Linked DNA regions of Homo sapiens: region 1 is linked to region 2. Evidence: fine-mapped expression QTL. A gene starts in region 2. The other region holds a variant in brackets. All regions are shown on one strand. Distances are between the middles of the regions. Region 1 holds the start of SIRPG-AS1 (SIRPG antisense RNA 1). Region 2 holds the start of SIRPG (signal regulatory protein gamma).

Region 1 (5,385 bases), 22 kb after region 2:
CCGTGCTTGCCTTCATCCTCCCTCACCTTACCAGGGTGGGTTTTTTATCCACTTTTGGCCCTTTGCTAGCTGGGGTCCCCTCAGACCCTGGTCCTATAAGGGACTCACACGAGGACCCCCTCAAGGCAATAAAGGGAGGATTAAAGAGCTGAGAGGTACAGAGGGAGCAGCCAGCATCAGGCTCCCAAGAAGCCCTCAATAAATGGCAACTGGTTACAGCCTCTCAGCCCTCTAGGGATGCCCAATGCTGCTGGTGTCTTGATGACTTGACTTCTTCAAGTGACACCCTTCTTACTGTGCCCATAAAATGTTTGCATGTGGTAGGGAGCAAGTTAATATTTACAAATGCAAGTATGCCTAATATGTGTTTCCTGATGACTGCTATAGGAGGTGCAGGGTAATAATTAGCAATTTGGAGACACGTTTAGGACTCATCTACAGGGAGAAACTACCCTCATTTTTCTGATTCTCCAGTTTGTGTGCTTTCAGGACCCAGGATAGATTTCTGCCTGTTGGGGTGGCCTAGATCTTTGTCTCTTGTAATGAATTAACGATGAAGAAATCACCCACCTTTGGCTTTCTTAGTACTCAGTGATCATTGTTTTTGGACCCAACCTGGCCCAACTGAAGACCTAGATTCCAAGAAACCTTCCCTCTTTTCAAATTTGGGACTTGGCACAGATTAGACCTGCTAACTAAAAAAAATAATGATTGATAGGAAGGCCAAAGGAAATAGCATTTATCTGGGAAATAAAGAGTTGCAATTTGGGAACCCTGAGTCATGGTAGTCCTGAACAGTGTCCCATAGGGCAATGCAGGAAAAGTTTTGTACTGGGGACTTTCACAAAATGTTGTTTTTGAAAACAGTTCATTGCCTGGCAGAAATGCTAAACTGCAAACTCGTATGAATTGGTTACTTAATTAGGACACTCCAGGATGAGAGAAATCAAAATCCCATGTACCTTGACTTCAGTCCATTGTTATCCAGGTCTACAGCAACATCCTGTGGCTTGACCTTTAGCAGGTGTGAGTGCAATGCTCTTACAAACGCTTGACTCCATGTTAAAGCTTTAGCCTTAACTACTTCATTTTCTTTCAAAAACTGTACTGGAATATTTGTGAAAAGAATGAAAAATATGGAATAAATTCATAAATACACAAAGAGAGAGAGCTCTAGGTATATGTCAAGTCTGGATTAAAGACAGATCTGTGTTTATTTTTATGAAGCATCTTCTGACTTTGATCCAAAGCAAAACTTCTTCCATGGCCCCATTTAATCCTTGTTGCACCCCTGGGAAGGGAAAATGCTGCTGTCCCACTTTGCAGATGAGGGGCTGCATGTTCCAGGCCACCCCTCTCATGGGCTGAGCAGCCTGGTTGCAGGTCTCATGGTGGCGCCACTTTGCCATTGTTCCCTACTTTGGCTTCTGTAAACACCCTCTCTGAGGTTGGTGAGCTCTCCTGGGGAAACAGGCTAGCACCAGTTAATACACAGAGGGAGAACAATCAGTAACTTTGTTCCTGTGCCCAGATTGGTGGAAGTCACCCTATGTGGAGAGGAGGACTTTGAACTCAGACCTGGACTTCCCTCTGGGACCTTTCCCTACACTGTCTGACCTGGGGCTGGTCGTCACCTCTTCCAACCTTTGCATCCTGCTCTGTAAAATGAGAATAAGAACACCATCCTCTCCACATTATTAGAAGGATTAAAATTAATGTATCTGAAGGTTCTTAACAGTGTCACACACTCATCGTTAGTGATTGTCATCTCAGTCATGTCTCCTGTTTATCGATGCCCCTTTTGTAGCCAAACCCTCTGCCCCCGTGGTATTGGGCCCTGCGGCGAGGACCACACCTGAGCATACAGTGAGTTTCACCTGTGAGTCCCATGGCTTCTCTCCCAGAGACATCACCCTGAAATGGTTCAAAAATGGGAATGAGCTCTCAGACTTCCAGACCAACGTGGACCCCACAGGACAGAGTGTGGCCTACAGCATCCGCAGCACAGCCAGGGTGGTACTGGACCCCTGGGACGTTCGCTCTCAGGTCATCTGCGAGGTGGCCCATGTCACCTTGCAGGGGGACCCTCTTCGTGGGACTGCCAACTTGTCTGAGGCCATCCGAGGTAGAGGACCCTCACACCCAGCCCAAGCCCACACCTGGCTGTCAAGCCCACTCCCCTCTCCCCAGGCTGTTGCTCCAGAGGTTGAATGGCCTGTAATCTAATCCCTGACTATACTGCCCGCCCGCCATGCACCTAGGTGTGCTGGTCACTTACTATCATTTTATTGGCAGCGGTCAGGGGACCAGCAATCACGTGCCAAGCTCTGCGCTAGAGAGTTTCATTTATCTCACCAAGAACAACTACTATTA[G/A]TGAGTACCTACTATGAGCCAAGTCCCTATGTGCTCGGCGATTTCACTGATTTTGCTACAGTTCTTACATTCCAACTGCATGCCAGGGGTTGTGCTTGTAGATTTCACTCATTCTTAGCCTAGTAGGAGCTACCAGTCCTTGAGCACCTACTGTGCACCAGGCACTGTGCTTGGTAATTTCATTCATATGCAAAGAGCGCCCTCAATGTCTTAGCATCTGCTGCCTGCCTAGCACTGTCCTGGTGATGCCCTCACCGTGGTAGTGGGAGTTAAGTTATGGAGCCCTCCCTGTGATCTGTCTGTGCCAGAAGATCAGAGCTTCTACCCTGTGCTGTTTCAGTTCCACCCACCTTGGAGGTTACTCAACAGCCCATGAGGGTGGGGAACCAGGTAAACGTCACCTGCCAGGTGAGGAAGTTCTACCCCCAGAGCCTACAGCTGACCTGGTCGGAGAATGGAAACGTGTGCCAGAGAGAAACAGCCTCGACCCTTACAGAGAACAAGGATGGTACCTACAACTGGACAAGCTGGTTCCTGGTGAACATATCTGACCAAAGGGATGATGTGGTCCTCACCTGCCAGGTGAAGCATGATGGGCAGCTGGCGGTCAGCAAACGCCTTGCCCTAGAGGTCACAGTCCACCAGAAGGACCAGAGCTCAGATGCTACCCCTGGTGAGGTTACTCAAAATTTTTAAATTTTGTCTTTTTCTCTCATTTTAAAAGTAATATCCACACTTGCTGTAAAATAAGCTAGAAGTCTATAAATACAAAGTAAAATTTTAATGTCAGCTCCATCCCCCCAAATCCCACATGCGAAGAGTCATGACTAGTAAGAATTTGATGCACAAGTTAATAGAACTTTTGACATAAATATATGTTTAATTTTTTTTTTTTTTGAGACGGAGTCTGGCTCTGTCGCCCAGACTGGAGTGCAGTGGCGCGATCTCTGCTCACCGCAAGCTCCGCCTCCCGGGTTCACGCCATTCTCCTGTCTCAGCCTCCCGAGTAGCTGGGACTACAGGCGCCCGCCACCACGCCCGACTAATTTTTTGTATTTTTAGTAGAGATGGGGTTTCACCGTGTTAGCCAGGATGGTCTCGATCTCCTGACCTCGTGATCCGCCCGCCTCAGCCTCCCAAAGTGCTGGGATTACAGGCGTGAGCCACCGCGCCTGGCGTACATAAATATATATTTAAGGAGCAAAGAGGCAGGCAGGGGGAACCATCTTCTCATAGAGTCCTTTGCCTTCCCTTATTCCTTGAGAGTTGTTGTGCCCGTTTCTCATCAGCCCACCCTTGTGCTCCCTACTTTTTCTAACCTCTGCTTTGTTTCTGTTTCATCCAAACTTTTCCATCCTCATTTATGACCTCATCCCAGTACACCCTGACATCTGCTGTGTATGTTTCAGAAAGACAAATGTAGTTTAAAACTGTACCAGGCCTGGCGGCTCACGCCTGTAATCCCAGCACTTTGGGAGGCCGAGGCGGGCGGATCACGAGGTCAGGAGATCGAGACCATCCTGGTTAACACGGTGAAACCCCATCTCTACTAAAAATACAAAAAAATGAGCCGGGCGTGGTGGCGGGCGCCTGTAGTCCCAGCTACTCGGGAGGCTGAGGCAGGAGAATGGTGTGAACCCAGGAGGCGGAGCTTGCAGTGAGCCGAGATCATGCCACTGCACTCCAGCCTGGGCGACAGAGCGAGACTCTGTCAAAAAAAAAAAAAAAAACTGTACCAGGCCTGCAGGTGACCATGAATGGTCACAGAACGGACCTCTTCTGTGTCCTGATTGTGATATTTGAGCAACAATAATCACAAACCCCTCTGCAAATTTACTAAGTGCAAATTTCCATTCATCCATGATCTCTGTTTTTGCTTCAACCACCCAGTAAGTCTGGAGTTTTAAAGAAGGGGAAACTAGGACTTGGGAAGTCATGGGGGATGTTGTTGAAGACCTCTTGCCTTTAGATCGGGTTATTGGTTCAAACTAATTAAAGTAAATCTGGGTCCCTGAGGACAAGGTCAGTATCAGCCTAAAATGCAAATTTGTGCTAGTTAGAGAAACAGTCCTCTTCTGCTGGGCATTGTCCCATGGACCTGAAGTTGGCCTGTGTTCCACTCCGTATGACCAAAATATGTCTTACTTCCCTCTTGTGTAATACCAGGAGGAGTCTCAACTCCAGGAGACTTTTCAAAGGCCCAGGTTCCTCCCACATACCTTATGGTGGTTAGTCTTATCTGCTGGGTCAGTGCTAGGTCACGGATTTTTCCATGTCCCTGTCTGCTGGAAGAGTAAATATAGGAAATGGAGGGCAAAAAATATCTTCTATAATCAGAGATGTATGGAAGGCGTGTGATCATGTCCACAGCTAACTCAGTCATGCATGTACACGCAGTTCCAAATGGAATCCATAGTTGGGTGATCTTATGACTAAAGACAGCATAACAAAACCAGTATCATTATTACAGTTAATACAATTTCAAATTTTTAATCACTAAATTTCATAAAATTATTAAAACAATTCCCTTATATCATCTAAAATGGAGTATACATTCAAATTTTCCTCAAATTTCTTTTATGACTATCTTTCTGTGCACTAAATTTGGTTTTAATTCATATTTAAATGCTTTGCAGTATTTTTCTTTGAAACACTTGGGCCTCAAGAATTTTTGGGGGTGTTTTAAAAGTATAAATTCAATTTCCTCAGTAGTTTAGGGTTACTCATATTATTCATTTCATATTGGGTGAGTTCCGGTAACTCGTGCCTTTTGAAGAATTTTGTGTCCATTTTATCTAAGTTGTCATATTTTTGTGTGTAGAGTTGTTCATAATATCTCCTTATTATCTTTTTGGTGTCTGAAGGGTTATGGCGATATCCCCTGTTTCAACCTCATATCTAAAATATGCCATTTCTGTTTTCTTCTTCATCAGCCTTGCTATAGTTTTTTTCCATTTTATTGGTCTTTTCAAAGGACCACTTTGTTTCCGTGAGTTTTTAAATTGTTTTTGT
Region 2 (5,385 bases):
TTACCTATCCACATTACTTTGTTTGGGTGTGTCTCTGTGCTGTACCACAGGAAATTTCCCCTACATAATCACCCAGCTTACTAACTTACTATTATACTTATTTATGTATAGTCAGCTAGTCAACCTATTAAGTTTTTTTAAAAAATTTCAGCACTGATTATGTTTTCATTTCCAAAGTCTGTGTTTTGGTATTTTTTCAAGATGGTTGTTGTTACCTCATGCCCGCCTATTTCTGTTTCATATTATTACATGCCTGATGTTGGTTTATGAATTTACTTCTCTTTTGTTTTCCTTATAAGATCATTAAGTATACTAACTTTAAAGAACTTTACACATTTTGTTTTTTCATATTTGCTCAGGTGTGAAGTTCTTTTGATTGCTATTTGTTTTTGAGTTATTGTTTTTCTTGAATTTGTTAGCTGCAGTGCTGTTCCTCAAATCTTTGGTGATTCTTGCTTGCACTTCCGTCTTCCCAGGAATAATTCCCCATGTGATCATGGGTTGTCAGGGCCTCGTGGAGCATGGCACCTGCCCCAGCCTCACTATGAGGGCTGCTCCTAATTGAGGCTATAGCTTCTTCTCTGCTTTCTTCCTGAGGGATGTCTCTCCCTTCCTGCAAGAGGTATCATAGTACAACCATTAAAAGTGAAGGCTGTGGAGTGTGGCAGCCTATGTTCCAGTTCTAAAAGCCGGGTGATCTTGAGCAAATTCATTACTCTCCATGTGCCTCGGGTTTTCTCACCTGTGAAAGGAGGTTAATGGTTGAGCTTACCTCATGGGGTCAGAGCAATGATTTAATGACATTACCAATAGAAAAATGCTTGGCACCATATCTGGAGCACAGGAAACTCTCAATAAATGATAGCTGTTATAATTCCTTCATGTCATATAGAAGCCAATTGCTTGTATTCAAGTGTAATTAGACATTGATTCATATATTCTTTTCATTTTGTGTTTTCACTACTGTGGGTGTGGAGAAGGAGGGGAAGATTTCACCCTGTGTACATCTGCCACATTAAAACAGGACTTTCAATTAAAACATGATAACATTTACAATTTGATTTGACAATTATTCATGACAGATTAAGAACCTAAAACCCACATGTGAGATGAAGGATTCTGGACAGGTCTTTCTTAGTCATAGATGCTGGAAGAGAAATCATTTCTTTTAACAAGGTGGCTTTTCTAAGGCACAACGGTGGCAGAGAACCAGTGGACTCTTCCTGTACACAGAAAATAATTATAGCCATGTTTTTTTGCTTATAATTAATTATGAGTCAAGCATTCAGTATGGCTTATATTATTCCTACCATAGCTCTACAAGGTGCATATTCTAACATTTATTTACATACAATCAAACCAAGGCTCAGAGAAGTAGTGTCTTTTTGAAAATCACACAGCTGGAAATTGTAAGAGGAGGAATTAATCTATGGTTGAACAAGGAGCGGGATTTAGAGAATCCAGAGGGAGAAACTGATTTCAGGGTGGCAGCGAGAGTCCAAATACACTATATAAGCTGGGTCTCAGGAGGCCTGGGTTGCTGGGAGAAAGCCACTGGTGGGCAACTCAGCATGCAGGAGGGATCCATTCAAAAGCAACATTTGAGTTCCCGCACTTCACCTGGCACCGTGAGTATCAATAATGACCTACTGGGTTTCAGGCATGATATGCTCATTACCTCTTTAATCGTCACTAAAACACTGCACAAAAAGACTTACTATTCCCAGTTTAGGAGATTGAAACTGAGCATAGGAGGGCCCAGCGACTTCCCCAACTCCTTGGCACACACTCTTGGCAGGAGCATGGATTTTTCCTCTTTCCTCATTTCCCATCCGAACTCAGTGATGAATGAAATAGGTGCTCTGTGTGTAGAAGAAAGGGTATTGAAATTGATGCGACGGCCCCAGGAACCTGCCCACCATAATCTTCCCTCATGATAACCCTATCCCCTTTCCATAACCCACAATCCCCACCTCACTCCACAAAGCAGTTGCTTATTACCTCAAACCCAGTTTCTCTCCTGGAAGGAGTCAAGAAATAATTCCTTCTGCTGGGTGCAGGCACATGAAAGTGCTAAGGTCCACAAGAGACTGAATTTGGGCTAAGTGTTGCCAATTATAGCAATTTGGAATAGAAAATCATTTCAGGAGAAGATCTGGTTCCTCTCCAGTGTTGAGCAGGTCCTGTGAACTCTTCTCCTACGTCCAGCGGAGTGGCATTTGGTTGAGGCTGGTGCAGAACAAGACCACAAGCCAACCACATCCTAGGGTCTTGAAATAAAGACTTTAGAAAACAATACCTAACAACAGATCTTTCTTGACTTAAAAGCCTCAAATGGCAAATCACCAAGAAGACCTGAAAATGGGTTTGGGGACACGAGGAGGGAGCACAGGTCCCAGGCAGGCAGGAAGCATTATTTCTGCTAACCCTGTCTGATTATCCTGAAAATGGAGCACGATTAACTCCTTGCTTTGTAGCTGCCTACTGTGCCTGATTTGTAAGTCACAATCTAGAAGCAGGTTACTGTTGCATTCCATCATAGCCACTTCCTCTTGAATTGAGGGAGGCAGGGCTTGTCTTCTGTCTTCAGAGCAGGGCCTGACATCTCCCCAGAACAGACGTTTGAACAGAGCAGGCTTCTGAGGTCTCCAAAATGCCTGTCCCAGCCTCCTGGCCCCATCCTCCTGGTCCTTTCCTGCTTCTGACTCTACTGCTGGGACTTACAGGTGAGCATTGCATTGGGCTAGAACCCTTTCTCCCTGCTTCCTGGACCTAGCCTTGCCCCTGGACTTGCAGCAATTTCAGATAAGCACAAGCACTGCCAAGGAAGGTCAAGGACTGGACATTGTCCAAGAGCAGAAGATCAGGGAGCTGAGCACTTTCTCTGTGGATCTGCAGCTGGCTACCAGAGGCATCAAACCTTGTGAGGCTTCTGCCACCATCACAATTAGTTACATTTTTATAATATTTTATTTGACAAACACAGAAGAATCATTATTAAATCCTTACCTGTCTTGAGTCCTCCTACCCATTTTTGTGTGCCCTCCTCCTCTTTAAGAAGTTCCACATTTCATGCTTACAGCGTCCTATATTCCTTTCTTAGGGCTTCCACAACAAAGCACCACAGACTCAGTAACTAAAACAATAGACATTTACTTTCTTTCTTTCAGTTCTGGAGGCTGAATTGCAAAATCAAGATGCCAGCAGGGTTAGTTTCTACTGAGGTCTTTCTCCTTGGCTTGTAGAAGGCCATCTCCTCCATGTGTCTTGACACATGGTCTTCCTCTGTGTGTGTCTGTATTCTCATTTTCTCTTATGAGAACATCAGCCATATTGGATTAAGGCTCCCCGCCAGTGACCTCATTTAACTAAATTGCTTCACCCATTTATGCCTAGTGCTCCGTTATTGGATCACTAAGCTTGCGGGAGTTATTTATATCCTACTGCTCAAGGGCATCGCCAAGGTCTGATTTTTCAAATTAAAAAAAAATTGCAACCTCGGGCATAAATGGGTTAAAGACCTTGTCTCCAAATATGGTCAAATTCTAAGGCGCTGGGGATTGGGGCTTCAACCCATTCGTTTTGGGGGCACATTCAGCCCATAACAGGCACCACCATCTCCCTTGGTCATCTTGACTTTCCTCTGGAGAATTTATTTTCCCTTCCCCCAGGCAGACAGGATTGGGAGGTCTTTCCTGGTGCCACCTGAGAGAGCCCTGTTCACAGCTCCCAGACAGGCTGCCTGTCTTCACCCCTTTTTCAGACCATGCAGCTGACCCCCGGTCACAGGGCTGGGCACAATAGCCTCTCAGTTGCCCACTGGGCCCTGCTGTGATGTCATCTCACAGGTCTTAGAGGGCAAGGTCTCACTTTTCAAATTATTTTTTTTACACATACACTGTACCCAAATGACAGCAGTAATAGTTCAGCAATTGCTCTCTTCCTGTAAGGCAGATGCACTTCTTAGCATTTTGTGTGTATTAAGTCAACTAATCCTCACAGCATCCCTGTGTGGAAGCTATAACTCTTGTGCTCTATTTGCAAATGGGGAGTGAGGCAGAGGCAGGAACCTGTTCATTGTCCCCTACTTCAGTCCATGGAGCAGTTGGGATCAAGTCCAGGTTGACCAGTTCCAGAGTTTATCACCCTTTTAACCATGTTATGCTATGTGTAGAAATATTAGAAAATGCAGGCAAGCAAACATTAGATTAATAATCACCCATCACACCAGTCAGAAACAATCAGAGGTAAAACACTAGTGTATGTATGTTTTCCCAAAATGTTAAAAATGTGTTGGATGGTTTCTATGTGCCAAATATTTTACTGAGATTTTTAAATTTGTCATAATTGTAATTAATGCACAAAACAACCTTATATACTAACATGATAAGCCAAACTTTTATATATATTTGTGAATGTGTATATATACACATTATATACACATATATATGCACATGTGCCTATGCATGTACATGTACATGCACAGATGAGATTTCATTTTTAATCATTGGTTCTCTTTCTATTTTCAGTGAAATTTTTAACAAAATAAATATTTTATTTTATTTTTATTTGACAAAAGTATGTATACTTATGTACAACATATTAAGAAATATGCATACATTGTGGAATGACTAATTTGAACTAATAAACATATGCATTACCTTACATATTTATCATTTTTTATTGTGAGAACTCGTAAACTCTGCTCTCTCAGCAGTTTTCAAGAATACAATTCATATTATTAAGTATAAACACCACATTGTACAATAGATATCTTGAACTTATTTCTCTTATTTAAATTGAAATTTTGTATCCTTTGACTAATATCTCCCCAACTACACCCCCTCTCTAGCCCCCGATAAACACCATTCTACTTTCTACTTCTATGAGCTCAACTTTTTAGATTCTTCATACGTGAAATCATACAGTGTTTGTCTTTCCGTGCCTGGCTTATTTCACTTAGCAGAATGTCCTCCAGGTTCATCCATGTTGTTGCAAATGACAGGGTTTCCCTTTTTGTAAGGCTGATTAGAATTTCATTGTGCATATATGCTACATTTTCTTTCTCCATTTATCTGCTGATAGACACCTAGGTTGATTCCATATCTTGGCTTTTGTAAATAATGCTGCAATGGACATGGGAGTGCAGATATATGTGTGACATGCTGATGTCATTTCCTTTGGATATATGCCAGTAGTGAGATTACCAGATCAGATAAGAGTTATATTTTTAATTTCTTGAGGAACCTGCATACTGTTTTCACTAATGGCTCTACTAATTTATATTCCCACCAACTGTCTGCAAGGGTTCCCTTTTCTCCACATCTTCTCCAATACTAAATTTCCTCTTTTTGATAATAGCCATTCTTAAAGGTGTGAGATGAT

Evidence for each region.
Region 1: its variant is fine-mapped to the expression of SIRPG in whole blood (TOPMed, PIP above 0.99).

Annotation. Positions count from the first base shown.
Region 1 is chr20:1,632,928-1,638,312 of GRCh38, reverse strand. SIRPG (signal regulatory protein gamma) reads left to right here. Exons shown (of 6, transcript NM_018556.4): 3 at 1,808-2,125; 4 at 2,714-3,046. It overlaps SIRPG-AS1 (SIRPG antisense RNA 1), which reads right to left and starts at 4,805. Exons shown (of 3, transcript NR_110090.1): 1 at 4,593-4,805; 2 at 963-1,107. RefSeq lists an enhancer at 2,398-3,223. The variant G/A (reference allele first, on the strand shown) is at 2,374.
Region 2 is chr20:1,654,983-1,660,367 of GRCh38, reverse strand. SIRPG (signal regulatory protein gamma) reads left to right here and starts at 2,589. Exons shown (of 6, transcript NM_018556.4): 1 at 2,589-2,726. The coding sequence starts at 2,654.